Homo sapiens: one gene and its partners. The protein of the gene in region 1 purifies or fractionates together with the protein of each later gene. This does not show direct contact. Each region holds a gene or a part of one and is shown in the gene's direction. Other genes may lie near its edges.

Region 1 (7,221 bases):
TGCTTTTACCATCTCCAGCTCAGCAGACCCTGAAGGACACTTTGAGACACCAATCTGGATTGAGCGGGTGGTGATAATAGGGGCTGGAAAGCCAGCAGCTGTGGTACTCCAGACAAAAGGTGAGTGACCAATCTGGCCCCTAGGATGGGGGAAGGAGGGGAAGCCGGGGCAGGTTTAGGGATGCCCTTGCCTGTAGGAACGTTGTTGTTATGCTATAGCCCATTGGTATGACTATGGCACTCTTTTATTCCTCCTCCAGGATCTCCAGAAAGCCGCCTGTCCTTCCAGCATGACCCTGAGACCTCTGTGTTGGTCCTGCGCAAGCCTGGCATCAATGTGGCATCTGATTGGAGTATTCACCTGCGATAACCCAAGGGATGTTCTGGGTTAGGGGGAGGGAAGGGGAGCATTAGTGCTGAGAGATATTCTTTCTTCTGCCTTGGAGTTCGGCCCTCCCCAGACTTCACTTATGCTAGTCTAAGACCCAGATTCTGCCAACATTTGGGCAGGATGAGAGGGCTGACCCTGGGCTCCAAATTCCTCTTGTGATCTCCTCACCTCTCCCACTCCATTGATACCAACTCTTTCCCTTCATTCCCCCAACATCCTGTTGCTCTAACTGGAGCACATTCACTTACGAACACCAGGAAACCACAGGGCCCTTGTCGCCCCTTCTCTTTCCCTTATTTAGGAGCCCTGAACTCCCCCAGAGTCTATCCATTCATGCCTCTTGTATGTTGATGCCACTTCTTGGAAGAAGATGAGGGCAATGAGTTAGGGCTCCTTTTCCCCTTCCCTCCCACCAGATTGCTCTCCCACCTTTCATTTCTTCCTCCAGGCTTTACTCCCCTTTTTATGCCCCACCGATACACTGGGACCACCCCTTACCCCGGACAGGATGAATGGATCAAAGGAGTGAGGTTGCTAAAGAACATCCTTTTCCCTCTCATTCTACCCTTTTCCTCTCCCCGATTCCTTGTAGAGCTGCTGCAATTCTTAGAGGGGCAGTTCTACCTCCTCTGTCCCTCGGCAGAAAGACGTTTCCACACCTCTTAGGGGATGCGCATTAAACTTCTTTTGCCCCCTTCTTGTCCCCTTTGAGGGGCACTTAAGATGGAGAAATCAGTTGTGGTTTCAGTGAATCATGGTCACCTGTATTTATTGCTAGGAGAAGCCTGAGGGTGGGGGGAGATGATCATGTGTGCTCGGGGTTGGCTGGAAGCCCTGGGTGGGGGGTTGGGGGAGGACTAATGGGGAGTCGGGGAATATTTGTGGGTATTTTTTTTACTTCCTCTTGGTTCCCAGCTGTGACACGTTTTGATCAAAGGAGAAACAATAAAGGGATAAACCATAAATAACTGGTGGTAGTCTGGATTCTAGTTCTAGCCTGAGCCACAGACCCTAGAAGCCTAGAGACCTTACATTTGCTTTCCTTTTTTTTTCTTTTTTGAGACTGAGTCTCACTCTGTTGCCCAGGCTGGAATGCAATGGCATGATCTGGGCTCATTGCAACCTCTGCCTCCCAGGTTCAAGCAGTTCTCGTGCCTCAACCTCCCGAGTCGCTGGGACTACAGGCATGCGCCACCATGCCCAGCTAATTTTTGTATTTTTATTAGAGATGGGGTTTCACCATGTTGGCCAGGCTGGTCTGGAACTCCTGACCTCAGGTGATCCGCCTGCCTCGGCCTCCCAAAGTGCTGGAATTAAAGGAGTGAGCCACTGCGCCCTGGGTCTTTTTTTTTTTTTTTTTTTTTTTGAGACAGAGTGTCGCCAGGCTGGAGTACAGTGTGTGATCCTGGCTCGTTGCAACCTCTGCCTCCTGGGTTCAGGCAGTTCTCCCACCTCAGCCTCCTTAATAGCTGGGATTACGGGCACCTGCGACCATGGCCAGCTTCATTTTTGTATTTTTAGTAGAGATGGGGTTTCGCCATGTTAGCCATGCTGATCTTGAACTCCTGACCTCAGGTGATCTGCCCGCCTTGGCCTCCCAAAGTGCTGGGATTACAGGCGTGAGGCACCATGCCTGGCCATGGGCCTTACATTTTCATTTGGCTTCAGCATAAGCATCCTTTTTGGGTTTTTTTTTTTTTTTTTTGAGATGGAGTCTCACTGTTGCCCAGGCTGGAGTGCAATGGTGTGATCTCGGCTCACTACAACCTCTGCCTCCCAGGTTCAAGCGATTCTCTTGCCTCAGCCCCCAAGTAGCTAGGACTACAGGCACCTGCTACCACGTCTGGCTGATTTTTGTATCTTTAGTAGAGATGGGGTTTCACCATGTTGTCTCGAACTCCTGGCCTCAAGTGATCCACCTGCCTCGGCCTTCCAAAGTGCTGGGATTACAGGGATGAGCCACTGTTCCCGGCCAGCATGAGCATCCTTGATTTCAGCAAAATGAGCAAGTGCAAGCCTTCCTTGGGTTGCTAGATATTTTCGTAGAAGAGCCCAGCAAGATCATCACATTTTAGTAGGCCTAGTTAGTAAGTGGTGATCAGAGCCAATGGAGTCCCTCTTGGATAGAAATAGCCATAAGGTCAGATAGCTGTTTCTCAAACTAAACTTTTGGAGGATGTCGGGGGTTGAGGAGACATAGTTTCGCTCTATTGCTCAGGCTGGAGTGCGGGGAGTGCTGTGGTATGATCCTGGCTCATTGCAGCCTTGACCTCCCAGGCTTCTAAAGTTCTGGGATTACAGGCATCGATCACTGTGCCCAACCTAGAGGCTTCTGCTTGTAGCTAACAGCACTTTTGTTTTTGTTTTTGTTTTTGAGACGGAGTCTCCCTCAGTCGCCCAGGCTGGAGTGCAGTGGTGCGATCTCGGCTCTTGGCAAGCTCTGCTTCCCGGGTTCACGCCATTCTCCTGCCTCAGCCTCCTGAGTAGCTGGGACTGCAGGCGCCCGCCACTACACCCTGCTAATTTTTTTGTGTTTTTTAGTAGAGACGGGGTTTCACCGTGTTAGCCAGGATGGTCTCGATCTCCTGACCTCGTGATCCGCCTGTCTCGGCCTCCCAAAGTGCTGGGATTACAGGCGTGAGCCACCGCGCCCAGCTGCTAACAGCACTTTTTAAAGTTTCCCATTGTTTTAGTGACAGGAAGTATACTGTTCCCCCTTCCCCTCATTTTGTAGACTGACCACAAGTCAGAGATTATTTTACCAGAAACTTTTTTTGGGGGGTTATTTTTTTTTTGAGACGGTCTCACCCAGTCACCCAAGCTGGAGTGCAGTGGCATGATCACGGCTCACCACAGCCTCAGCCTCCCATGTCAGCCTCCCAAGTAGCTGGGACTGTAGGCCCGCGCCATCACACCCAGCTAATTTTTGTGTTTTTTTTGTAGAGACGGGGTTTTGCCTTGTTGCCCAGGCTGATCTGAAACTCCTGGGCTTCTAAAGTGCCAGGATTACAGGCATGAGCCACTGGGCCGGGCCCTTTTTTTTTTTTTTAAAGGAAAAATGAGAAGGATGGCTTGTGCTTGTGAGGAGGAAGGGGATGCATTCATGGAATTCCCCAGCTCAGGAACTATTTCCAATCAATTTCCTGGTAGTTAAAACACTTCCTTGGCACCCCTGTTGTCATCTGTTGAAGAAATGTGGGCCAGAGGACACACTAGAGATGCTGGAATCGGGTGTCCAGAAAGGACACAAAACTGCCCTGTGGCAATGACATAATTTTTGTCAACTTTGGTTTCTTATCTATCTCAAAGTATTATAGTGAGGATTCCAGGAGAGACACCCAGAGGATCATGTGGTGGGCCTTAGATTTCATTCGTGTAATAAGTATTGAGCAACAGCTATTGGGTGGCGTGACTGACTGGATGGATGAATAAGGTGAAGATCTGGGCGCCAGGACTGGCTTTCTCAGGCAATTCCGTGATGAGGGGGCGGGTCTCGAGGTAGGTACCACGTGCACCTACTCGAGATTCTGCACCTACCCGGGGTTTTGACTGCCGGCCACGCGAGTTTGGCACGCCGGATGTGACGTCACCACCCGGTGGTTCCCGGAACCTGGCGGTGGGACCGGAAATCAAGTCTACAAGGCGGGGGGGTGCACAGATGACCGGAAGCGTGCCCTGGCGGCGCTGCCAGCCCCAGCTGGGAGCTGGTAGGGGAGTGCGAGGAAGGCGGGACGCAGGGCGGAGCCGCTGCAGGGGCGGGGCCTGCGGACAGGAGCCGGGGTTTGGGGCGGGAACCCCTCGTCCCCTGCAGACCCCGCCTGCTCGGGCGCGGGCGGCGGCGCGGCCATGAAGCTGAAGCTGAAGAACGTGTTTCTCGCCTACTTCCTGGTGTCGATCGCCGGCCTCCTCTACGCGCTGGTACAGCTCGGTGAGCGGGGCGGGGCGGGGGTGCGGCGGGCTGGCCCGAGGGCGCCCGCCGCCGTGCATCCCGCCCTGGGGATGAACCCCCGGCAAACACCATTCATCCGCTCGGCCCTCCGGACAGCTCTGCGGCCTCAGGCGCACTGCCCTCTATAGAACGCACCGCGGCTACCCGCCGCACCTCGGATGAAATCCAGACTCCTTCCCAGAGCCTGCAAGGCCCCGCATGATCCTGCTGCCGTCCGCCTCTCCCAACCCCATTTCCACCCCTCTCCCTCGCTCTGCTGCAGCCAGACTGGCTTGCTGACAGTTTCTCGAAAACCCCACGCTCATTACTCTCTCAAGCACTTAACTTGTTCCCTCTGCTTGGGGTGCTTTGCTTCCAGCGTTTCCCGGGCTGCCTCTTTCTCATCCTTCAGGTCTTAGCTCAAATGTCACCTCCTCAGAGAGGCCTTCCCTGACCACCATAGCTAAAGTTACCATTCTTAATTCCATTCCCTTTTATTCTCTATCCTGATTATTTTCTTCATGGCCCCATCACAGTTTGTAATAATGTTATTAATTTGTTTCTTTGCTTAGTGTCTGCTTCCTCCACTAAACAGAAAGCTCGATGAGGGCAGGGACTGTGTCTGTTTTGTTCCCTGCTGTATCCCCAGCACCTAAGGCAGTGCCTCCTAGGAAGAGTATTCAATAAATATTTATCCTACGATGGAATCAATGAATTTAACAATGAGTCTTTGGTCACCTAGCCAAGGGAATGGATCGAACCCTGCCCCTTATGCAAAGATTTAGGGACAGTGCCACTGCGTTATCCTCAGGTATTTGAAAGACTGTCCAAAAGGGGTTCCATAGTGTAATGGTTAGTTGGCACCTTGGACTCTGAAAAGACTGTCCTGTTTAAGGACATGAGCTTGTTAGAAGCCCAGAAGGCAAAATTAGGACCAGCAGGTAGAAAAGATGGAATCAGCTCAATATCCAACATAAAATTGTAACAATGGAATTTATTAAAGTTGGAGAGGGTCTGCTGCTTGAGGCAGTGAGTTTCCCACACGAGAGGTATAGAAAAGGCTACTAGGGAAGTCATAAGGTGATACCTGCATTGGTTAGGAATTAATGAGACGATTACGGCCCTTTGGGATGCTGAACATTCTGCGGTTCTCTGTCCCCACCTTCTTTCCCCATTAATGCTTCCTGGGACCAGGCCAGCCATGTGACTGCCTTCCTCCCCTGCGGGCAGCAGCCGAGCAGCTACGGCAGAAGGATCTGAGGATTTCCCAGCTGCAAGCGGAACTCCGACGGCCACCCCCTGCCCCTGCCCAGCCCCCTGAACCCGAGGCCCTGCCTACTATCTATGTTGTTACCCCCACCTATGCCAGGTATGGGCTCTGGTGCACTCAAGAGGTCTGCGTTGTCCAAGAAGTTGGAGTTGATGATGAGGAGTTTGGGGAGGCACTGGGCTAGGAGTTGTTCCTCAAACTAGAGCATGCCAAAGACAGGATAAATGAACCACATTTATACTCAAATATTTGTGGGAAAATAGTTCTTTTTCAGGCTGGGTGTGGTGGCTCACGCCTGTAATCCCAGCACTTTGGGAGGCCGAGGCGGGTGGATCACCTGAGGTCAGGAGTTCGAGACCAGCCTGGCCAACATGGCAAAACCCCGTCTCTACTAAAAATACAAAATTAGCCAGGCGTGGTGGCGCATGCCTATAATCCCAGCTACTGGGGAGGCTGAGGCAGGAGAATCCCTTGAACCTGAGAGGCGGAGGTTGCAGTGAGCTGAGAGTGCGCTATTGCACTCCAGCCTGGGCAACAAGAGTGAAACTCCATCTCAAAAACAAAACAAAACAAAAGAAAAAAGAAAAAAAATAGTTCTTTTTCTAGAAGGAAAATACAAAATTTCTACCAAATTATAAGATAGAACAATAACATTTCAAAGAAATTTTGAGCTTGGCAGTGAATTAACTCTCTCTCCTTAGGGACCGTTTGGCAAGAAAGTTAAAACCCCCTGATTAAAGTTGAAAGGGCTTGTCTGGGCGCAGTGGCTCACGCCTGTAATCCCAGCACTTTGGGAGCCCGAGGCTGGCGGATCGCCTGAGCTCAGGAGTTTGAGACCAGCCTGGGCAACATGGTGAAACTCTTGTCTCTGAAAAAAAAAAAAAAAAAAAAAAAAAGTTAGCTAGGCGTGATGGTGCATGCCTGTAATCTCAGCTACTCTGGAGGCTGAGGTGGGAAGATTGCTTGATCCTGGGCGGCGGAGGTTGCAGTGAGTGGAGATCATGCAGCCTGGGCGACAGAGAGAGCCCATTTCAAAAAAAAAAAAGTTGAAAGTGCTTGGCCTGATAGTCATACTAGGGTCCAGAAATAGTTATACCAGCTGTTACTTACAGTGTGTTTACTCTCTAGCAGGCACTGTATTTAGTGATTTACATTTGCTTTTGTTTTAAATCAAATGTAATTGGTTTTACTAATAAAACCAATTGGGGAATGTGGTTTTGGATCTGTAGCCATAAGGGTGTTAATACATCTTCTGGGAATCAGATGGCTGTCCCATTCACGCATAGGAAGCTCTAGACCCCACCTGCGACATGCACACACAACCAGCCCTGGGACAGGCAGGTAGATCTGAAGGATAAAGAAGTACAGAAGAGGCCAAGCCCCACGTTCCACATTCCTGGTTTGTTCCTTTTTTTTTTTTCTTCCCCCCGCCTCCCCGCAACACCGAGATGGAGTCTTGCTCTGTTGCCCAGGCTGGAGTGCAGTGGTGTGATCTTGGCTCACTGCAACCTCCACCTCCCGGGTTCAAGCGATTCTCCTGCCTCAGCCTCCCGAGTAGCTGGGATTACAGGCGTGCACCACCACACCAGGCTAATTTTTTTTTTTTTTTTCCCGAGATGGAGTCTCACTCTGT
Region 2 (7,024 bases), on another chromosome or scaffold:
TTTTCTTCCAGGGTTTTTATGGTTTTAGGTCTAACGTTTAAGTCTTTAATCCATCTTGACTTGATTTTTGTATAAGGTGTAAGGAAGTGATCCAGTTTCAGCTTTCTACATATGGCTAGCCAGTTTTCCCAGCACCATTTATTAAATAGGGAATCCTTTCCCCATTGCTTGTTTTTCTCAGGTTTGTCAAAGATCAGATAGTTGTAGATATGCGACGTTATTTCTGAGGGCTCTGTTCTGTTCCATTGATCTATATCTCTCTTTTGGTACCAGTACCATGCTGTTTTGGTTACTGTAGCCTTGTAGTATAGTTTGAAGTCAGGTAGTGTGATGCCTCCGGCTTTGTTCTTTTGGCTTAGGATTGACTTGGCGATGCGGGCTCTTTTTTGGTTCCATATGAACTTTAAAGTAGTTTTTTCCAATTCTGTGAAGAAAGGCATTGGTAGCTTGATGGGGATGGCATTGAATCTATAAATTACCTTGGGCAGTATGGCCATTTTCATGATATTGATTCTTCCTACCCATGAGCATGGAATGTTCTTCCATTTGTTTGTATCCTCTTTTATTTTCTTGAGCAGTGGTTTGTAGTTCTCCTTGAAGAGGTCCTTCACATCCCTTGTAAGTTGGATTCCTGGGTATTTTATTCTCTTTGAAGCAATTGTGAATGGGAGTTCACTCATGATTTGGCTCTCTGTTTGTCTGTTGCTGGTGTGTAAGAATGCTTGTGATTTTTGTACATTGATTTTGTATCCTGAGACTTTGCTGAAGTTGCTTATCAGCTTAAGGAGATTTTGGGCTGAGACAGTGGGGTTTTCTAGATATACAATCATGTCGTCTGCAAACAGGGACAATTTGACTTCCTCTTTTCCTAATTGAATAGCCTTTATTTCCTTCTCCTGCCTAATTGCCCTGGCCAGAACTTCCAACACTATGTTGAATAGGAGTGGTGAGAGAGGGCATCCCTGTCTTGTGCCAGTTTTCAGAGGGAATGCTTCCAGTTTTTGCCCATTCAGTATGATATTGGCTGTGGGTTTGTCATAGATAGCTCTTATTATTTTGAAATACGTCCCATCAATACCTAATTTATTGAGAGTTTTTAGTATGAAGGGTTGTTGAATTTTGTCAAAGGCTTTTTCTGCATCTATTGAGATAATCATGTGGTTTTTGTCTTTGGCTCTGTTTATATGCTGGATTACATTTATTGATTTGCGTATATTGAACCAGCCTTGCATCCCAGGGATGAAGCCCACTTGATCATGGTGGATAAGCTTTTTGATGTGCTGCTGTATTCGTTTTGCCAGTATTTTATTGAGGATTTTTGCATCAATGTTCATCAAGGATATTGGTCTAAAATTCTTTTTTTTTGTTGTGTCTCTGCCTGGCTTTGTATCAGAATGATGCTGGCCTCATAAAATGAGTTAGGGAGGATTCCCTCTTTTTCTATTGATTGGAATAGTTTCAGAAGGAATGGTACCAGTTCCTCCTTGTACCTCTGGTAGAATTCGGCTGTGAATCCATCTGGTCCTGGACTCTTTTTGGTTGGTAAGCTATTGATTATTGCCACAATTTCAGCTCCTGTTATTGGTCTATTCAGAGATTCAACTTCTTCCTGGTTTAGTCTTGGGAGAGTGTATGTGTCGAGGAATTTATCCATTTCTTCTAGATTTTCTAGTATATTTGTGTAGAGGTGTTTGTAGTATTCTCTGATGGTAGTTTGTATTTCTGTGGGATCGGTGGTGATATCCCCTTTATCATTTTTTATTGCATCTATTAGATTCTTCTCTCTTTTTTTCTTTATTAGTCTTGCTAGCGGTCTATCAATTTTGTTGATCCTTTCAAAAAACCAGCTCCTGGATTCATTAATTTTTTGAAGGGTTTTTTGTGTCTCTTTTTCCTTCAGTTCTGCTCTGATTTTAGTTATTTCTTGCCTTCTGCTAGCTTTTGAATGTGTTTGCTCTTGCTTTTCTAGTTCTTTTAATTGTGATGTTAGGGTGTCAATTTTGGATCTTTCCTGCTTTCTCTTGTGGGCATTCAGTGCTATAAATTTCCCTCTACACACTGCTTTGAATGCGTCCCAGAGATTCTGGTATGTTGTGTCTTTGTTCTCGTTGGTTTGAAAGAACATCTTTATTTCTGCCTTCATTTCGTTATGTACCCAGTAGTCATTCAGGAGCAGGTTGTTCAGTTTCCATGTAGTTGAGCGGTTTTGAGTGAGATTCTTAATCCTGAGTTCTAGTTTGATTGCACTGTGGTCTGAGAGAAGTTTGTTATAATTTCTGTTCTTTTACATTTGCTGAGGAGAGCTTTACTTCCCAGTATGTGGTCAATTTTGGAATAGGTGTGGTGTGGTGCTGAAAAAAATGTATATTCTGTTGATTTGGGGTGGAGAGTTCTGTAGATGTCTATTAGGTTCGCTTGGTGCAGAGCTGAGTTCAATTCCTGGGTATCCTTGTTGACTTTCTGTCTCGTTGATCTGTCTAATGTTGACAGTGGGGTGTTAAAGTCTCCCATTATTAATGCGTGGGAGTCTAAGTCTCTTTGTAGGTCACTCAGGATTTGCTTTATGAATCTTGGTGCTCCTGTATTGGGTGCATATATATTTAGGATAGTTAGCTCTTCTTGTTGAATTGATCCCTTGACCATTATGTAATGGCCTTCTTTGTCTCTTTTGATCTTTGTTGGTTTAAAGTCTGTTTTATCAGAGACTCGGATTGCAACCCCTGCCTTTTTTTGTTTTCCATTTGCTTGGTAGATCTTCCTCCATCCTTTTATTTTGAGCCTATGTGTGTCTCTGCACGTGAGATGGGTTTCCTGAATACAGCACACTGATGGGTCTTGACTCTTCATCCAATTTGCCAGTCTGTGTCTTTTAATTGGAGCATTTAGTCCATTTACATTTAAAGTTAATATTGTTATGTGTGAATTTCATCCTGTCATTATGATGTTAGCTGGTTATTTTGCTCGTTAGTTGATGCAGTTTCTTCCTAGTCTTGATGGTCTTTACAATTTGGCATGATTTTGCAGTGGCTGGTTCCGGTTGTTCCTTTCCATGTTTAGCGCTTCCTTTAGGAGCTCTTGTAGGGCAGGCCTGGTGGTGACAAAATCTCTCAGCATTTGCTTGTCTGTAAAGGATTTTATTTCTCCTTCGCTTATGAAGCTTAGTTTGGCTGGATATGAAATTCTGGGTTGAAAATTTTTGTCTTTAAGAATGTTGAATATTGGCCCCCACTCTCTTCTGGCTTGTAGAGTTTCTGCCGAGAGATCCGCTGTTAGTCTGATGGGCTTCCCTTTGAGGGTAACCCGACCTTTCTCTCTGGCTGCCCTTAACATTTTTTCCTTCATTTCAACTTTGGTGAATCTGACAATTATGTGTCTTGGAGTTGGTCTTCTCGAGGAGTATCTTTGTGGCGTTCTCTGTATTTCCTGAATCTGAACGTTGGCCTGCCTTGCTAGATTGGGGAAGTTCTCCTGGATAATATCCTGCAGAGTGTTTTCCAACTTGGTTCCATTCTCCCCATCACTTTCAGGTACACCATTCAGACGTAGATTTGGTCTTTTCACATAGTCCCATATTTGTTGGAGGCTTTGCTCATTTCTTTTTATTCTTTTTTCTCTAAACTTCTCTTCTCGCTTCATTTCATTCATTTCATCTTCCATCGCTGATACCCTTTCTTACAGTTGATTGCATCGGCTCCTGAGGCTTCTGCATTCTTCATGTAGTTCTCGAGCCTTGGTTTTCAGCTCCATCAGCTCCTTTAAGCACTTCTCTGTATTGGTTATTCTAGTTATACATTCTTCTAAATTTTTTTCAAAGTTTTCAACTTCTTTGCCTTTGGTTTGAATGTCCTCCCGTAGCTCAGAGTAATTTGATCGTCTGAAGCCTTCTCTCAGCTCGTCAATGTCATTCTCCATCCAGCTTTGTTCTGTTGCTGGTGAGGAACTGTGTTCCTTTGGAGGAGGAGAGGCGCTTTGCTTTTTAGTTTCCAATTTTTCTGTTCTGTTTTTTCCCCATCTTTGTGGTTTTATCTGCTTTTGGTCTTTGATGATGGTGATGTACAGATGGGTTTTTGGTGTGGATGTCCTTTCTGTTTGTTAGTTTTCCTTCTAACAGACAGGACCCTCAGCTGCAGGTCTGTTGGAATACCCTGCCTTGTGAGGTGTCAGTGTGCTCCTGCTGGGGGGTGCCTCCCAGTTAGGCTGCTCAGGGGTAAGGGGTCAGGGACCCACTTGAGGAGGCAGTCTGCCCGTTCTCAGATCTCCAGCTGCGTGCTGGGAGAACCACTGCTCTCTTCCAAGCTGTCAGACAGGGACATTTAAGTCTGCAGAGGTTACTGCTGTCTTTTTGTTTGTCTGTGCCCTGCCCCCAGAGGTGGAGCCTACAGAGGCAGGCAGGCCTCCTTGAGCTGTGGTGGGCTCCGCCCAGTTGGAGCTTCCCCACTGCTTTGTTTACCTAATCAAGCCTGGGCAATGGCGGGCGCCCCTCCCCCAGCCTTGCTGCCGCCTTGCAGTTTGATCTCAGACTGCTGTGCTGGCAATCAGCGAGATTCTGTGGGCGTAGGACCCTCCAAGCCAGGTGCGGGATATAATCTCGTGGTGCGCCGTTTTTTAATCCCGTCGGAAAAGCGCAGTATTTGGGTGGGAGTGACGCGATTTTCCAGGTGCCGTCCGTCACCCCTTTCTTTGACTCGGAAAGGGAACTCCCCGACCCTTTGAGCTTCCCAAGTGAGACAATGCCTCGCCCTGCTTTGGCTCGCGCATGGTGCGCGCACCCACTGACCTGCACCCACTGTCTGGCACTCCCTAGTGAGAGGAACCTGGTACCTCAGATGGAAATGCAGAAATCACTGTCTTCTGCGTCGCTCACACTGGGAGCTGTAGACCGGAGCTGTTCCTATTCGGCCATCTTGGCTCCTCCCTTATACATTTCTTCACACCTAGTAGATAAATCCTTGACATATTTTTTCAATTGTATATTTACTTTAATTTTGCTTCTGCTATTTTGAGTGAACTTTTTGGAAATCAAAATATATTATTGCAAGTCTTTAAATGATAACAGTGTCAAAATATATTATCGCAAGTGCTTGAAAGACAAAAGTGTTTAAATGATATCTGTGGTTTGTTTTAGGTTCAGGAAGATTTGACTGAAGAGAAAAAAAGGGAACTGGAGCATAATGCTGAAGAGACCTATGGTGAAAATGATGAAAATGTATGACCGGGATACATATTTCTATTGAGCACTTGAGTGTTTGTGGGTGTGCATGTGTATAGGAGAGATATATGTATTTGGGATACGTACCAGTGGGTAATGGTACCTCTGAGTTACCACTGAATTTAACAGGCCCACCTGAAATTAGGAAAAGTTGTGACAACATGAAAAGTAGGAGAGACAGCAGCACTGTTGCTTACATATCATTTTTCTTCCTTTTTTTTCCTCCAAAAATGAGTAATTTTTCATCCTGTTTTTAGAGAGAATTATTTATCACTAACTCTATACTATCTCTTAGTTTTTCTTTTTTCTTTTAATTTTAAGACTGATGATAAAAATAATGATGGAGAAGAGCAAGAAGTTCGAGATGACAACCGCCCCAAAGGCCGAGAGGAACACTACGAGGAGGAAGAAGAGGAGGAAGAAGACGGGGCTGCAGTTGCTGAGAAATCACATCGAAGAGCTGAAATGTAGCGGCACCCAATTTCTAGACAACGCTCAGCCAACGGATTCTTTTCAAGCTGCTCAAACATAAATCTGCCTACTGAACTCTAGGATATTTAATTACAAAAATTAAGAACTTAGACTTTTTTAAAACTTTTGTATTAGAAATGCGCATACATTTATATGAATATATTTTGATAACGTAGGTCTAGAGCTTCTTTTATATTCAAGCTAAACATGAAAAAGAAGAAAAACAATAAAGTAAACCTGAGCCCCCACGTCCCAATTTTTTTAATAGATTATGTGATGTTGGAAAGCTCATTGATTTTGTATATGTTTCAGCGTGTTACCTTTCTGGCTTCCAGTTCCCAGGTGTTCTTTGTTTGCCTTTGATAAAATACAGGATTTAAGAACAGAGAGTACTGCAAAATGCCATGCAGACTTTAAAGAGAATGGCCTGTTTACTAATTGCTGCCCTTCTGATGTCTTTATGTATAGCTCTGATAGAATTTTCACCAGTCTATGTATCTCTGGAGTGAGATCTATGTACAAAGTGACATACAATTGGAAATCCATTTTTGTTGTAAAGACATTGTTTTTCAGACTTTTCAGATCAATTAGAAAAATGTCATTGCTTTAAAATCATAGCTGTTCTGTTTAAGAGGAATTGAATTTAAAAATGAGAGAGTATTAAAACTCATGTGGCAGTATCCTGGTCTTAATCAGGTATTGCAGTGTTCAAACAAGGTATGGACACATCAACATATTCACCTTTTGGAAGGACTAGTGACTTGGTTAAAAACTAATGAGTGTTTGCGTGTGGTGTTTCTATGCGAGCACCCATTCTCAATTTTTTTTTTTTTTTTTTGTTTGAAGCCATTGATTGATATTCTTGTTTCAGTGTCTGGTTCCCTATAAGTAATATATATTTCCTCTTTAAGCTCTGTGCCTCAATATGCAATCACTTTGATAATAAGTATAAATATGAAGACATACCAAACTGCAAATAGGATTATTTTTCAAAACTATATGGTGAAACATATGGTGATATGATAGACTTATGGTTTTTCTGTTTGCTGGGATTGGGTCTGCTTTTTGCCTATGTGTAAGGCATTTTAATCATTGTGAATATAATAGATTCCTTAAAATAAGAAAATTAAAAATCAGAAACTTCCCTTGGAGTAGAGACATTTCAGTTGCAAGCATAAAGATTTTTAAATATATAACACTAGGTTATATAATTCATATATGTGTGGTTTTGTATTAATAATCAAATTAATAAAAACATTTCATTTTCTACCATTGTATGAACGTAATTTTATTTTTTAATAACCACACTCATAGATGGTTTTGATTGTTCCAGTTGAGTGATTG
Region 3 (7,024 bases), on another chromosome or scaffold:
CAAGCTTGGGTGAGTTGAGCATCTGACTCCGTCCTTCCTCCTGAGACACGTGCAGCGAGGGCACCCACTGTGCAGCGAGGGCTCCCGCCGTGCAGTGAGCATACCCCCTGTGCAGTGAGGGCACCTGCCGTGCAGTGAGCATACCCCCCATGCAGCAAAAGCACCCCCCATGCAGCGAGGGCTCCCGCTGTGCAGTGAGCATACCCGCTGTGCAGTGAGGGCACCTGCCGTGCAGGGCTGCTTCAGGGTTTGGCACCATAATGCCTGGATGTGCTCCGTGGCTTCCTCCTTGGTGCCTGTGTTTGGTGGCTGGAAGGCCCAGCACCCTCAGGGCCCAGAACCCTCAGGGAAGTGCCTGGGCATCTGCCAGGAATTAACCCACTGGGTCCCACTTGTCTCAAAGCCTGGCTTGGTAGGATGGCCTGAACTTTGGATGTTTTTCATGCCTTTCGTTACATAGGATCCTCTTGCTGAGGGTGGATCATGCCCTCCACATTGCAAAAGCATCAGAGACCCAGCCCACCCTCGCGTCTGCAGCGGGAAGATGGGCCTGGTGCCAGGCGCGGGCAGCCGCCCCTCCCAGCGTCGGGAAGATGGGCCTCATGCCAGGCATGGGCAGCTGCCCCTCCCAGCGTCGGGAAGATGGGCCTCCGGGTGGTTTTGCGACTCAGTCATCTGCGAATTTCCGGATGCTGCACAGAAGGGGGTGCCAAAGTTTTTTTAAGATGATGTAAAAAAAGCATAAATTTGATAAAAATTATGTCCATTAACCTCATAAGTTTCTACCCATCGGGAAGGATCATCCTTCTGTTTTCAGCAGCAGAAAACTGACCACAGTAGGGGGTTGTCTGTCACTGAGTCCTCAGCTCTGGTGGGAGGGCAGGGTCAGAGCTGGGCAGGGTGGCCAGCTCGGGGATCTGAGCATCTGGGAGCAGGAGGTGGAGGGCCAGGTGAGCACACAGCTGCGAGGAGGTGGAGGACCAGGTGAGCACACAGCTACAGCTACAGGGAGGCTCTGCGCCTGCAGGACAGGTTATTACAGGGGCCGCAGCAGGGCCTGGGCCGCCTCCACTCTGTTGGCTGGGGTTCAGGGGTCCCAGGTCGCCAGGAGCACCTTGCATGTGGCTCGGGATGCACGGAGTCTCCCGTGAGGTGTGGGTTTCTTAGGACCCCAGGGCAGGTGTCCCATGGGAGTATGAACTAAATGCCTTTGTGGACGTTTAGACGTGAAATGTCTGCTCTAGACTCACACACCTGTCTCGCTCCCTCCTTCCAGAACTCTTAAAACGCCTAGATGACGTGTCCAACGATGTGAGGATGGCAGCCGCCTCCACCTTGGTCACCTGGCTGCAGTGTGTCAAGGGTGCCAACGCAAAATCCTACTATCAGAGCAGTGTCCAGTACCTGTACCGAGAGTTGCTGGTTCACCTTGACGATCCAGAGAGGGCCATCCAGGATGCAATTTTAGGTGAGACTCCGACGGCTTGGCCTTCGTTCCGATGCCTGCTTTCGGCGCCTGCCACGGGCATCTGTAGCTGAGCCGTGTGACCGGCCACAGGGCCCTGGGGCACAGGAGGGGCCTCAGCTCCGGCCTGGCACACTCTTGAGTTCTTGGCAAACCCTGAGAGCGGCTGTCTTTGTGGTGATAGCTGCTGACATTTCCTCTAACAGAAATCAAAACTGAGAGTATTCTAGAATACTTGTTAGTTGTTTAAAATAACAATAGTAAGCCCAGTATATATTGACACAGATGGCTTGTGTTTTTGAAAAATACTTTCCAAAACAAAATCATCTGCAAGAACGATTTTTGCAAATGTCTTAAATGTGTAGCTTGATGGAAGACACTGGACTTTCACATCTTCCATACAGTCAGTCATGATGTGTATGGCTCTGGCTGAAATACGTGGAAAATAATCTGGCCTCGCCTGTGGCTTCAAGTGTAGTTGGACAAAAGAAGAGTATTTTAGTAGCCTTTTCAGATAGGCGTGGGACTTCTTCAATACCACGCCAACAGCGACACAGGCCGTCCCTTGAAGGTCACTCACAGCACAGGGCCTGAGGCCACACACCACAGAGCCTTCCACGCTCAGTGCATTAAAATCCGCTGGTCCATCTCACACTTGGAATGTAACGATTTGCTTTTTTTTTTCTTTTTTTTTTTTTTGTTTTGTTTTGTTGTTGGTGAATATAATGACGTTGTTCTTTTTTTTAATAAAATTTGTATTTTTAATTTTTGTGGGTACACATAGGTGTATATAAGGCATGTGTGATACTGTGATACAGGCATGCAGTGTGTGTAAATCACATTGGGGAAATGGGGTCCCCGTCACTTCAAACACTTACACTTTCTTTGTGTTACAAATAATTCAGTGATACTTTTCGTTATGTTTAAATGTGTGATAAATTATTGTTGACCATAGTCACCCTGTTGTGCTATCAAATACTAAATCTTACTCATTCTGTTTTTGTACTCATTAACCATCCCCACCTCTTCCCCCGGCCCCATTCCTCTTCCGAGCCTCTGGGAGCCATCCTTCTGCTCTATCTCCATGAGTTGAATTATTTTTATTTTTAGTTCCCACAAATGAGAATGTGCGGAATTTGCCCTTCTGTGCCTGACTTATTTCACTTAACATAGCGACCTCCACTTCCCTCCATGTTGATCCAATGACTGGATCTCATTTCTTTTGTGGCCGGATAATATTCCACTGCGTGCGCTCCACGTTTTCCTTCTCCCTTCATCTGTCCGTGGACACCCCGGTTGCTTCCACACCTTGGCTGTCGGAACAGTGGGGCATTCGGCGTGCGCGTGCAGCTCTCCCCCATAGCTGAATTCCTCTCTTTTGGGTATTTGCCCAGAAGTGGGATTGCCGGGCTGTATGGGGCTCTATTTTTAGTTTTGGAGGGACCTCCAGACTGTTCTCCCAGCGGTGCTCATTTACATTCCCACCAGCAGCGTGAGGGTTCCCTTGTCTCCACATCCGCGCCGGGACTTGTTTCCGCAGCCATTTTAACTGGGGTCAGAGGATGTCTCACTTGTTTCTATGTGCATTTCTCTGAGGAGCGGTGGTGGTGGGCACCTTTTCAGACGCCTGTTTGTCATTTCCATGCTGTCTTTTGAGAGCTGTCTGTTCAGGTCTTTTACCCATTTTTAATTGGATTATTAGATTGTCTGCTATTGAGCCTGAGCTCCTCATATATTCCAGTGATTAATCCTTGTCAGGCGGCGGTTCTAAGATACAGTCTCCCATCCCGTACCCGCGGGCTGTCCCTGCGGCTGTACTCTGCTCATTCTTCCCTTTGCTGTGTGGAAGCTTTGGGCCTGGATGTGCTGACTTTGCCTTTTGCCTCCTTTGGAAAATACTTAGACCTTCCCCGCGCAGCTGCGTCCGGTTTCCCGGCGTGGCTACATCCGGTTATGCGATGTCGGATCTTCCTGGTGTGGCCGCCTCCCGTCGCGCAGCGTCAGAAACTCGGATCTTCGCGGCGTGGCCGCCTCCCGACACGCGGCGTCAGAAACTCGGATCTTCCTGGCGTGGCCGCCTCCCGTCGCGCGGCGTCAGAAACTCGGATCTTCGCGGCGTGGCCACCTCCCGACACGCGGCATCAGAAACTCGGATCTTCCTGGCGTGGCCGCCTCCCGTCACGCGGCGTCAGAAACTCGGCTCTTCGCGGCGTGGCCGCCTCCCGTCACGCGGCGTCAGAAACTCGCATCTTCCCGGCGTGGCCGCCTCCCCTCACGCGGCGTCAGAAACTCGCATCTTCCTGGTGTGGCCGCCTCCCGTCACGCGGCGTCAGAAACTCGGATCTTCCCGGCGTGGCCGCGTCCCGTCACGCGGCGTCAGAAACTCGCATCTTCCTGGTGTGGCCGCCTCCCGTCACGCGGCGTCAGAAACTCGGATCTTCCCGGCGTGGCCGCGTCCCGTTACGCAGCGTCAGAAACTCGATATTCCTGGCGTGGCCGCCTCCCGTCACGCAGCGTCAGAAACTCGATCTTCCTGGCGTGGCCGCCTCCCGTCACGCAGCGTCAGAAACTCGATCTTCCTGGCGTGGCCGCCTCCCGTCACGCAGCGTCAGAAACTCGATCTTCCTGGCGTGGCCGCCTCCCGTCACGCAGCGTCAGAAACTCGGTCTTCCTGCCATGGCCACCTCCCATCCGGCGGCATCAGAAACTCGGACCTTCCTGGCGTGGCCGCGTCCCCTCACACAACGTCAGAAACTCGATCTTCCTGGCGTGGCCACCTCCCCTCCGGCGGCATCAGAAACTCGGATCGTCCTGGGGTGGCTGCTCTTGTTACGCAACGTCAGAAACTCTCCTGCGTGGGCACCAGGCTCAGAAGAGTCCGGCTTGTGGTGGCAGGGCCAAGCTTTGGCTCATTGTGATTTTTTGTGTGAGAGCTTGACTTGTATCCTCGGCCACAAACCCTGTCGGTTGTTCTGGGAGTGAGGGACTTGGGCCGTTCACTTTCACGCCGTGCTCTGCCAGATCCCGCGTCCGCACAGCCAGGGTGGGTGCACTGCTCGTCCGTCCGCCATTCTTCCTGGGAAAAGCAGCTCTGCTGCACGACCCTGGTCCTCCGTGTGAAGCGGTGCACCTGGTGCCCACTCGCGGGTGTAAGCCGTGTGCGTGAGGGTGAGTGTGGCAGGTGAAGCCGTGTGCTCGAGGGTGAGTGTGGCAGGGGGCGTGGGCCTCAGCTGCTCCCGCATCTGCGCAGGTGTGAGCACAGTGACGGGCAGGCCGGGCATGCTCTGCGTGCGACCACATGCCTGGCTTTGACTCACAGACCCTCTGAAGGGTCCTGGGGACCCCGAGGGCCTTGGAGCCCATGTCGGGAGCCCCTGCCTTGAGTCGTGGAATCAGGTTGTCAGCCAGTGAGGGAGCCCCAGAGCCCATTGATCCACGGCGGGGCCCGTGGTCTCTCCAGGTCACGGAAAGAAGCTGCGAATTGGAGACCAATTGGAAATTGTTTAAAAGGAGGACAGCAGCTCACGTGCAGGCCTCGCTGGGACAGCCCATCCTGCCAGATCCACGCAACGCCCCCAGCTCCCCACACTCCCTGGCAAATCCCAGCCCTGCCTGCGCCCTCCCAGCTCTCCTGTCCTGCACTACACACCATCAACCCGAGTTCTGAGCTTCTCCTACTCTCAGCCTCAGCCTCACTCGTCCTCAGGACCTTGCTCTAGGCCGAGGAGACCAGTGCCCCTGTGCACCAGCTCAGCCTGCAGCCCCGGCCCTCTCGCCTCCCCAGGACTGCACAGGGCATCTCCCTTCCCCACTGCACGGTACAGGCCATTCTTTCTCCTGTCTTTAAAAAAACAAAACACAGATGCCCTGTACGCCGCCCCCACCTCCCCCACCTCCCCCACCGCACATCCGCCTGGCAGCAGGCTCCCTGGAAGCAGCCCGCCTTACCCCTCCTCGAGGCCCTGGGCCCATGGCAGGCATCTGCAGCCGTCCACCTGCCTGCACCTCTGAGCAGCGCCAGGCACAGCTGGCGGCCACGCACCCTCCTCTGGCTGCGGGACGCCCGTGCTCAGTCTCTTGGTCTTTCCCTCGCCCATGTGGGCCCCTCACTGCTCCTCTGCTGTGTCTGCACCGCTCCCTCAGAGCTCTTCTCCTGGCCTCAGCTCCACACACAAGTGCAGCTGCCTGGTGCCGAACCCTGGGCCGCTACCCCCCTCCCTGACTGCCTGCCGGGTTCCGCCACCCTCAGTGGCTCAGTGGCCATCTGTCCTCAAGACTGAAGGCGGAGACCTTGAGGTCCTCCTGGACCCCCTCTTAACTCCCAGCAGAATCTGATAGACTCCCCAGCCACTGCAGCAACCTCCCCATCCTCTTCCTGCCTCAGCTAGACACGCCCAACCCTTTCTGGCCCCCACCCCTGCAGCTCCCACTGCCCCCATCACACACACCACCACGAGCCCCTGACACGTTTGCCTTCCTGATTTTCATCATCGGCCACTGCTTCCCGATGAACCCTCCGTAAGCATGGGTTCATTTCCGGCTGTGTCGGTGATGCCTGGCCCGTGGGAGGTTTGCAGTCACTGCGGCAGGTGAATTGGCATCCGCAAATTGGATAAGAAAGTCGCCTGTTTTTCTGAGCCTATTTGCTCCTGTGAAACCTGTTTCTAAGCCCAAAAATGCCACCTGAAGACTCTGCAGGACATCATTTCATGGTCTGCCCACAACTGCCAGGAGGCGATTTTCAGTTCTTTGAATGCACGTTGTGACTGCCGTGCACCCACCCAGCAGCATCAGGTTCCTCATATTCACATAGTGACCATGCAGCATCAGGTCACTTGTCCACGTTGTGACTCAGGTCATTCGTATCCACATTCTGACTGCCGTCCACCCGTCCAGAGTGTCAGCTTACTTATATCCACGTTATGACTACTGTGCACCCATCCGCTGCATCAGGTCGCTCGTGTCCACACTGGGACTGCCGTGCACGTGGCCAGCAGCATCAGGTCACTTGTATCCACATTATGATCGCTGGACACCCATCCAGCAGGATCAGGTCATTCGTATCCACATTGTGACTACTGGGTCCCCATCCAGCAGCGTCAGGTCATTCGTCCCCAGATTGTGAGTCGGGTCACTCGTATCCACATTGTGACTACTGTGTCCCCATCCAGCAGCGTCAGGTCATTCGTCCCCACATTGTGAGTCGGATCACTCGTATCCGCATTGTGACTACTGTATGTCCACCCAGCAGCGTCAGGTTATTTGCAGATGCTTTTACAGATGCTTGAACTTCACTACAAAGCCAATTTGCACGAGAGGTAAGATTGGTTTCATGTTTGTTTCTGGCATGTTCAAGGTGTTTTTCTGTTTTACAGAGGTCCTCAAAGAGGGCAGCGGGCTGTTCCCAGATCTCCTGGTGAGGGAGACGGAGGCCGTCATCCACAAGCACCGCTCGGCCACCTACTGCGAGCAGCTCCTGCAGCATGTGCAGGCCGTGCCAGCCACACAGTGACCACGCTGGTTTCAGCCACGGCACACCCTTGTCCCCACCTGAGCCAG
Region 4 (7,024 bases), on another chromosome or scaffold:
AAACATCTTATGGAAATTTCATTCCTTTTCCTGGAAACACCAATCTGCTCTCATTATTGATACTAATCTCTATTATTTTGTAGCTTTATTTTTATGATAGTTGGAAAAGACTTTCCTAAAATTGTACAGACTCACTCCTTTAGATGTTAAACTTCTTACAATAAAAATAATTAGTATTTAGTCATTGCTTATTTATGTGCCAGGTATTATTTTCATGTTTTGGATATTATATAATTTAATCCTCACAGTATTCTATGAGGCAGGTATTATTCCCATTTTACAGATGACAAAGCCGAGGCACAGACATTAGGAACTTGTGAAGATTACAGTAAGTTCTCATGTTTGATCTCATTCCAGTCTTATTGCATGACATAGTCAAGAGGTTAAGGAGCTCTGTCTCTGGAGTGCCTCTGGTCCTCTATTCTGTACTGATGGGTAATTTTCACTTAAGGCTACATAAAGGATATCCAGTTTTGATGAGAGGCATCAGTCATTTTAGAGCAGTGATTCTCAACTGGGTATGATCTTGCTTCACAGGGCATAACTGGCAATGTCTGGAGACATTGGTTGTTACAGAGCTTGTGGGGTTTGCCACTGGCATCCAGTGGGTAGAGGCCAGGGATGCTGCTAAACATCCCCAAATGCACACGACAGCCCTTCCTTCCCCAACAAAGAATTTTCTGGTGGAGAATTTCAGTAGTACCTGGATTGAGAAGCCCTGCTTTAGAGGGTCTCCTGGGCTGTACTAGAGGGGCTTAAGAGCACCAGCTTTGGAGTCAAATGCTAGGGCCTGAATCCCAGCTTCACCACATGCTAATCTAACACCTTCAGCAGCCTCCCTGTACCTCACTTTCCCATTTGCAGCTGGAGATTGGGGATAATAATAGTTCACCTACCTCATAGGTTTATTGTGAGGATTAAATGACTTGATACATGTAAAATGCTTAGAATAGTACTTTAGAAGGCGCTATGTAATAAACAGAAGGTGCTAGGTAGAAGCTCTTATTTCATCTTTTGTTGCCTTCCTACTGTCTTTTATTACATTTATTAGGTAAAATACTTTGTATTGATTTTGTACTACTGTTTGTAAGGATTCGACTGGCTTGTTAACCACGGTAATTTCTGATGTCTAGCCTTTGTGTTTCATCACCATCATTACCCTATTTGTTTAATTCTTCTTAGGAACCAGGGTGCTAATCATGATATTTGGTTACAGTGTAGTGCTGGACTGGATTCAAATGAGATGTCTCTGCAGGAGAAAAAAGATCAGAACAGAAATTCTATTGAGAACATAGCCAATGAGACTGTGAACGTGCTGTGGAATATATGGTAAGATGCCTACCAAACACAGTCTCCTGCTATAGCAGTACCCAGGCTGCTATTCTCTGTTATACTGTGTAGGAATCTCTGTTCCCCTTGGTAGGCCTGTTAATCTGGGATGTTAAGACATGGTAGGGGCCGGACATGGTGGCTCATGCCTGTAATCCCAGCACTTTGGGAGGCCGAGGCGGGTGGATCACTTGAGGTCGGGAGTTTGAGACCAGCCTGGCCAACACTGTGAAACCCCGTCTCTACCAAAAATATTAAAAAATTAGCCGAGTGTGGTGGTACATGCCCATAATCCCAGCTACTCGGGAGGCTGAGGCAGGAGAATCGCTTGAACCCTGGAGGCAGAGCTTGCAGTGAGCCAAGATCGTGCCACTGCACTCCAGCCTGGGGGACAGGGCGAAATTCCTGTCTCAAAAAAAAAAAAGACTTGGTAAGAGGCAGGATCAAGTGACCTAAGATCAACCCTCCTTCCCAGTCCGTTTTCTTACTGCATCACTACATCTTTTGTTTTACGGCTTTCCTCTCCAGTCATTGCATCTGACAAAAGATAGGAGGAATCATGACCATTAGCACCTGTGGCTCCTCCTTTCCCCCGACTTCTTGTACACCCTGAGCAGAATTTGTCTTTAAGCTGGTCAGTCCCACATGCAGGTGCAGCTTTGGTTTGGCCTCTAGACTGAGATGGGGACCACAGACCTTGGCTGGTGCTTTTCTTTCTCTTTCCTGGCACTTACTGTCTGATTGGGAAGTAGATGCCTAAGAAGAGCTCCCTTGGCCCCAGGAGGAAGAAGGCCACTCTCCATTCTGTGATTGTAGCAGTGGTGAGGGTGGAGTGGACTTGCCGCTAGGAATGGAAATGGCTAGAAACACAACCTGGATTTACTTTTTTCTGCCCCATTTTATGTCCCACATTTCTAGCAAGACTCTGTCACAGTTTCTTATCTTCAGTCAGCAGCAATTACAGTGGCTGACCTAAAAGCACAGATGTTTCTTAGAATACAAGATTAAGTTGGATCCTGAAATGCCTACGTGGCAATCTGACCTTGCCTGTGATTTCATTTTAATGAATGCATTCCACCAGAAATATTAGAGAGATCAGATCTGAGGAAATGGCATTTGAGCAAAAACTGATGGGTGCTGTTTTTCTGTGCACCAGATAACTTTAAGTCATAGAAATTGTTGCATTTGGAAGTTTTTAAAAAATTTCCTTGAAAAGAATCTGAATATATCTCCAAGGTGATTTCTCTTTTCTGAATACCTATGAGCCCTGTCTGTATCACTGAGTTACTATAACTTTTAACATTTTTGTTTCATCATTTATATTTCAAATTATCTTTACACATATATGCCTTGTCTTCCTGACTAGACTGTGGGCTCCTTCATGCTGCCATAACTAGATAGGTAGGTAGGTAGGTAGATAGAAGATATGAAATATTTTTCATTACATAACAGATTTAGTTTAATAATTTAGTCAGCTCTGTTAGCGTGTCATGTGTGTATGTTATATGTATGGAGGAAACATGTACAACATGGATATTTCCTCTGGAAACATGGATACAATTATTACAATTAGCCTTGTTAACTCGTATTTAATGTGTTTGCTTATTCATAACACTGAAAGCTGAGTCTTTTATTAAAAGGTAGTATAATTTAAAAAATACTTATTGTAATTTCTCTATTGTAGACTGCAAATTCTGCTTGATGAAATTATAATTGCACTCTAAAAGGCTTGAATAAAATATAATTTTATTTTCCTTTAAATGTGTGTTTTTGTTAATGTTCTAAAATATAGTAGGTTAAAAAATAAAAAATAAATTTGTGTTTTTGTGTGATAAATATAGAGGCCTTTTATCCTCCTTTAACTTGTTATCATTGTGGTATGGAGGAAAGAAAAAACAGTAGCCTGGACCCAGGGAACCTAGGTACTGGGCCTGGCTCTACCACTAACAAAATGTGTGCTCTTTGATGGGCCACTTTACCACTTGGGGCCTGGGTCTTCACATTTATAAAATGGGGAGTTGAATTAAACGATTTACAAGATCTCTTCCAGCTCTAACCTTCTATAAGGAAACTGGCATCATGGCAAAGAGATTGATGAAAAGGTCCCATTGTGATAGAAATAAAATATAGATAGCCAGTTCTCATGTACAGTGAATGTGAATGGGTGTTAGTTCCTTCATCGATAAAAATGGTGGGTGTTTGATTCCAACTCCTTGGTTTATAAAGCCTCGTTTGTTTTTTTATGGATTGCTATGGTTGATTTCCTACTGTTAAAATGTGAATAGTAAAACTTTTTTTTCCCCCTTCAATTTAGTGAATGCAGTAGTAGAGCAGTGTCTATATTCAACAAAGAAGGGTGTTTGGAGATTGTGTTAAAGTATTTAAGTAGGTTTCCTACCAATGTTGACCTGGCTATTTCAGTAGGTAAGTGAAGAAAAGGTGATGACTTATTAAGAATGTGTAGCCTTATTCAAAAATTTTTATGCAGCTTTGGCGTGTTTATTCCACTGGAGTGATTTTTTGTTTCGTTGTATGTGAATGTGTAGCTCAGCACCTGTTTTTTCTGGGTCTTAAATCTGTGATTAATATTAATTCTTTACCTACTCATTCAGTTTTTCTGCTTTTGACTCTGAAAGGGAGAAAGGTAATTATGTGAGGATATGTGGTTTCTAGCCTGTTTCCATTCTTAGCAGCCTTTATTAATTCTTGAAGTTTTCATCTCCATTTACTAAGAAACAGTAACGCACAACTACCAGGCCTTTAAGCCAGTTAATTGGAATCTAAACTTATTTAAATGTATTGTGCTACTATCTCATACGTCCAGCAGAAAACTGACGGCCTGAGTTTTGTTGAGAGAAAAAGAGGAAAAGAAATGATTGAAATTCCACTTAGGCCTTCATGCCTTCCATGAGACAGGGAAGGCAAAGTCCAGCAACTTCAGTGGCTTTGGCTGCCTCGCCTTCTCTTTATTGGGCTGGGGAACCACTGGGGACCCTCAGCTCAGTGGCAGGAGGCAGAAGTCAGAGCATAGGCAACTCAGCAGAATTCTGGGTGGGAGTGGAGAAACAATTGAGGGAGAGCATTTCTTTTCTACCGATCATTACTGCGGGCATCCAGCTGTCCCTTTGTGGAACTGCATTTCTCCTGGGGAGGAAGAAGTGTATTCCCCTGACTGCTGTTTTTCTTGACTCTAATGGATATTTTTAAGAGAACAGAATTGAGGGAAAATAGTAGAATAAATACTACTGAGAAAATTTTAAAAATCATTTCTCTAAATGGAATCTTGGTGGGGCTGGAGAGTTGTGAGTAAATGGGGATTTTAAAAACGATTCAGCCATTTTTAGGAAATTGATAGGTGACTTAATCTCAGAGGACAGTTTTTGTTACAATAAGAGAACTTCAGGAAAGTTAGTTCATATCTTTTACAAGAAAAATCACTTCTATTTTTGTGCCTTTAGTCTTATAGATTTATTTCTGTTTTTAGTTTTTCTTCCCCTTAATGAGCGTTTTTGAAATGGATTAGAATAGTCATTTTGCATTGTATAATAGTGTTTTCCTTCTCCATGTAGCTAGATTAATGATTTTTTAAAATACATTATTACTTTTGCTTCTAAAGTCAAGCAATGCTTACATATAGTAAAATGAACTTATAAGATTCCATCCCATGTATTCATATAACTTTTTTTGAACCTGTATGGTAGCAGTCATGGCTGTTGGCTAAAGTAAATTTAATTAGTTTCTTAATGACAAAGATATTACATTTGGATATATGTACAGAAATGCATATATGTGGATTTCCATATAAATGTATCATCAACCACAGCAGTAGCATGCATTTTGAGTAATTTTGATGGGCATGATTTAATATTTTACACATCTCTTAATTTGCTCATACTTTTATATAAACTACTTTTTTTCTTAAAGAGCTATTGCTCTGCCAGAAATAACCCTAACTTTGAAGGTCATGATAAATTTAAAGGAAGCCAGACGTCCCAAAACCTAAGGCTGTTTGCTACTGGTCCTTGATAAGTACATAAATTGAGGGTAAAATTTTTTTTTTTTTTTTGAGATGGAGTCTCAGCTCTGTCACCCAGGCTGGAGTGCAGTGGCGCAATCTCGACTTACTACAACCTCCGCCTCCCGGGTTCAAGCTATCCTCTTGCCTCAGCCTCCCAAGTAGCTGGGATTACAGGCGTGCATCACCATGCCTAGCTAATTTTTGTGTTTTCAGTAGAGATGGGGTTTTGCCATGCTGGCCAGGCTGGTCTGCAACTCCTGACCTCAAGTGATCCTCCTGCCTCAGCCTCCCAAAGTGCTGGGATTACGGGCATGAGCCACCGCACCCGGCCTGAGGATAAACTTTTATAAACATTTATAGTAACGACATTGCCGCATTTAAGAGTCTTTTTAGGCTGGGCGTGGTAGCTCACACCTGTAATCCCAGCACTTTGGGAGGCTGAGGCGGGCGGATCACAAGGTCAGGAGATCGAGACCATCCTGGCTGACAAGGTGAAGCCCCATCTCTACTAAAAATACAACAAATTAGCCAAGCATGGTGGCGGGTGCCTGTAGTCCCAGCTACTCGGGAGCCTGAGGCAGGAGAATGGTGTGAACCCAGGAGGCGGAGCTTGCAGTGAGCCAAGATTGTGCCACTGCACTCTAGCCTGGGCGACAGAGCGAGACTCCATCTCAAAAAAAAAATAAAAGAGTCTTTTTAATTGTATTTTGTAAAAAGTGTAGATCTGGCTGGGCATGGTGGCTCATGCCTGTAATCCCAGCACTTTGAAGGGCCGAAACGGACAGATCACTTGAGACCAGGAGTTCCAGACCAGCCTGGCTTTCATGGTGAAACCCTGTCTCTACTAAAAATATAGAAATTAGCCAGGCATCATGGCGCATACCTTTAATTCCAGTTACCTGAGAGACTGAGGCACAGGAATCGTTTGAACCTGGGAGGCAGAGGTTGTAGTGAGCTGAGATGCGCCACTGCATTCCAGCCTGGGTGACAGAGCAAGACTGTCTCAAAAAAAAAAAAAAAAAGTATAGATCTGTACAGGATTAGAAATTTAAAAAGAAAAGAAACATGATCTTTTCCAGCACTGATAGTTTGGGAAGCCTCATTTGCGCATATCACCCTGAGATAAAGCATATATATTTTGCAAAACCTACATGTGTCTAATGAAGTGGTAATGATACAATGTTTTATTGATGAGTTATACTGGTGTAAATTATCCAAAGCAGAATTCATTTGTTTCTAAATACTTATTTTTTGCCTCGTAGCATATTGTTTGCAGACAGTGACTGAGGATAACCCAGAGCTGCTGAAGTCTTTCAGTGCTACAGCATTGAACATGCTGGAATCAGCACTGCTTTCTCCTGTCAGTTCCATGGAATCTCTTCTATTGAAGACATTGGTAGCAGGTAAAATTTAGCCTTACGGCATAGTATATTGTTTCAGTAGCTTTTGGTATGGATGTGGTGGGGGCAAAATTTAGTCATTCATTTCAACACATTAGGTCTTCTGTGCTTTTATCTGTTCTGAAAATTTTAATATCTGAGAAGAGACCCTTACTTCAAGCAGTTGTCTATAGTTGTAAATCCTTGTAGAATAGATTTGTTTCGAATTTAACAAACTACTGTTAACCTGATAAAGAGATGCTGTTGTCAGGATCCCCACTTATTTATGAACCAGTGA

The links.
Region 2: the proteins of B3GAT3 (region 1) and GOLIM4 purify together in Homo sapiens (affinity purification with mass spectrometry; 4 studies listed by BioGRID and IntAct, with this or other methods). This does not show direct contact.
Region 3: the proteins of B3GAT3 (region 1) and DNAAF5 purify together in Homo sapiens (affinity purification with mass spectrometry; 3 studies listed by BioGRID and IntAct, with this or other methods). This does not show direct contact.
Region 4: the proteins of B3GAT3 (region 1) and HEATR3 purify together in Homo sapiens (affinity purification with mass spectrometry; 4 studies listed by BioGRID and IntAct, with this or other methods). This does not show direct contact.

The regions. Positions count from the first base shown.
Region 1 is NC_000011.10:62,618,963-62,626,183, reverse strand, and holds the start of B3GAT3 (galactosylgalactosylxylosylprotein 3-beta-glucuronosyltransferase 3), read left to right. Parts: upstream 1-4,197; 5' UTR 4,198-4,236; coding exon 4,237-4,318; intron 4,319-4,364; exon of another isoform or gene 4,365-5,068; coding exon of another isoform or gene 5,069-5,129; intron 5,130-5,512; coding exon 5,513-5,687; intron 5,688-7,221. Other genes in the region: GANAB (neutral alpha-glucosidase AB isoform 3 precursor), read left to right, coding at 19-119, 260-369. UniProt on the Homo sapiens protein: Glycosaminoglycans biosynthesis. Involved in forming the linkage tetrasaccharide present in heparan sulfate and chondroitin sulfate.
Region 2 is NC_000003.12:168,008,925-168,015,948, reverse strand, and holds part of GOLIM4 (Golgi integral membrane protein 4), read left to right. Parts: intron 1-5,125; coding exon 5,126-5,206; intron 5,207-5,530; coding exon 5,531-5,680; 3' UTR 5,681-7,024. UniProt on the Homo sapiens protein: Plays a role in endosome to Golgi protein trafficking; mediates protein transport along the late endosome-bypass pathway from the early endosome to the Golgi.
Region 3 is NC_000007.14:778,677-785,700, forward strand, and holds part of DNAAF5 (dynein axonemal assembly factor 5), read left to right. Parts: intron 1-1,276; coding exon 1,277-1,468; intron 1,469-6,840; coding exon 6,841-6,977; 3' UTR 6,978-7,024. UniProt on the Homo sapiens protein: Cytoplasmic protein involved in the delivery of the dynein machinery to the motile cilium.
Region 4 is NC_000016.10:50,068,962-50,075,985, forward strand, and holds part of HEATR3 (HEAT repeat-containing protein 3), read left to right. Parts: intron 1-1,216; coding exon 1,217-1,329; intron 1,330-3,643; coding exon 3,644-3,753; intron 3,754-6,609; coding exon 6,610-6,750; intron 6,751-7,024. UniProt on the Homo sapiens protein: Plays a role in ribosome biogenesis and in nuclear import of the 60S ribosomal protein L5/large ribosomal subunit protein uL18 (RPL5). Required for proper erythrocyte maturation.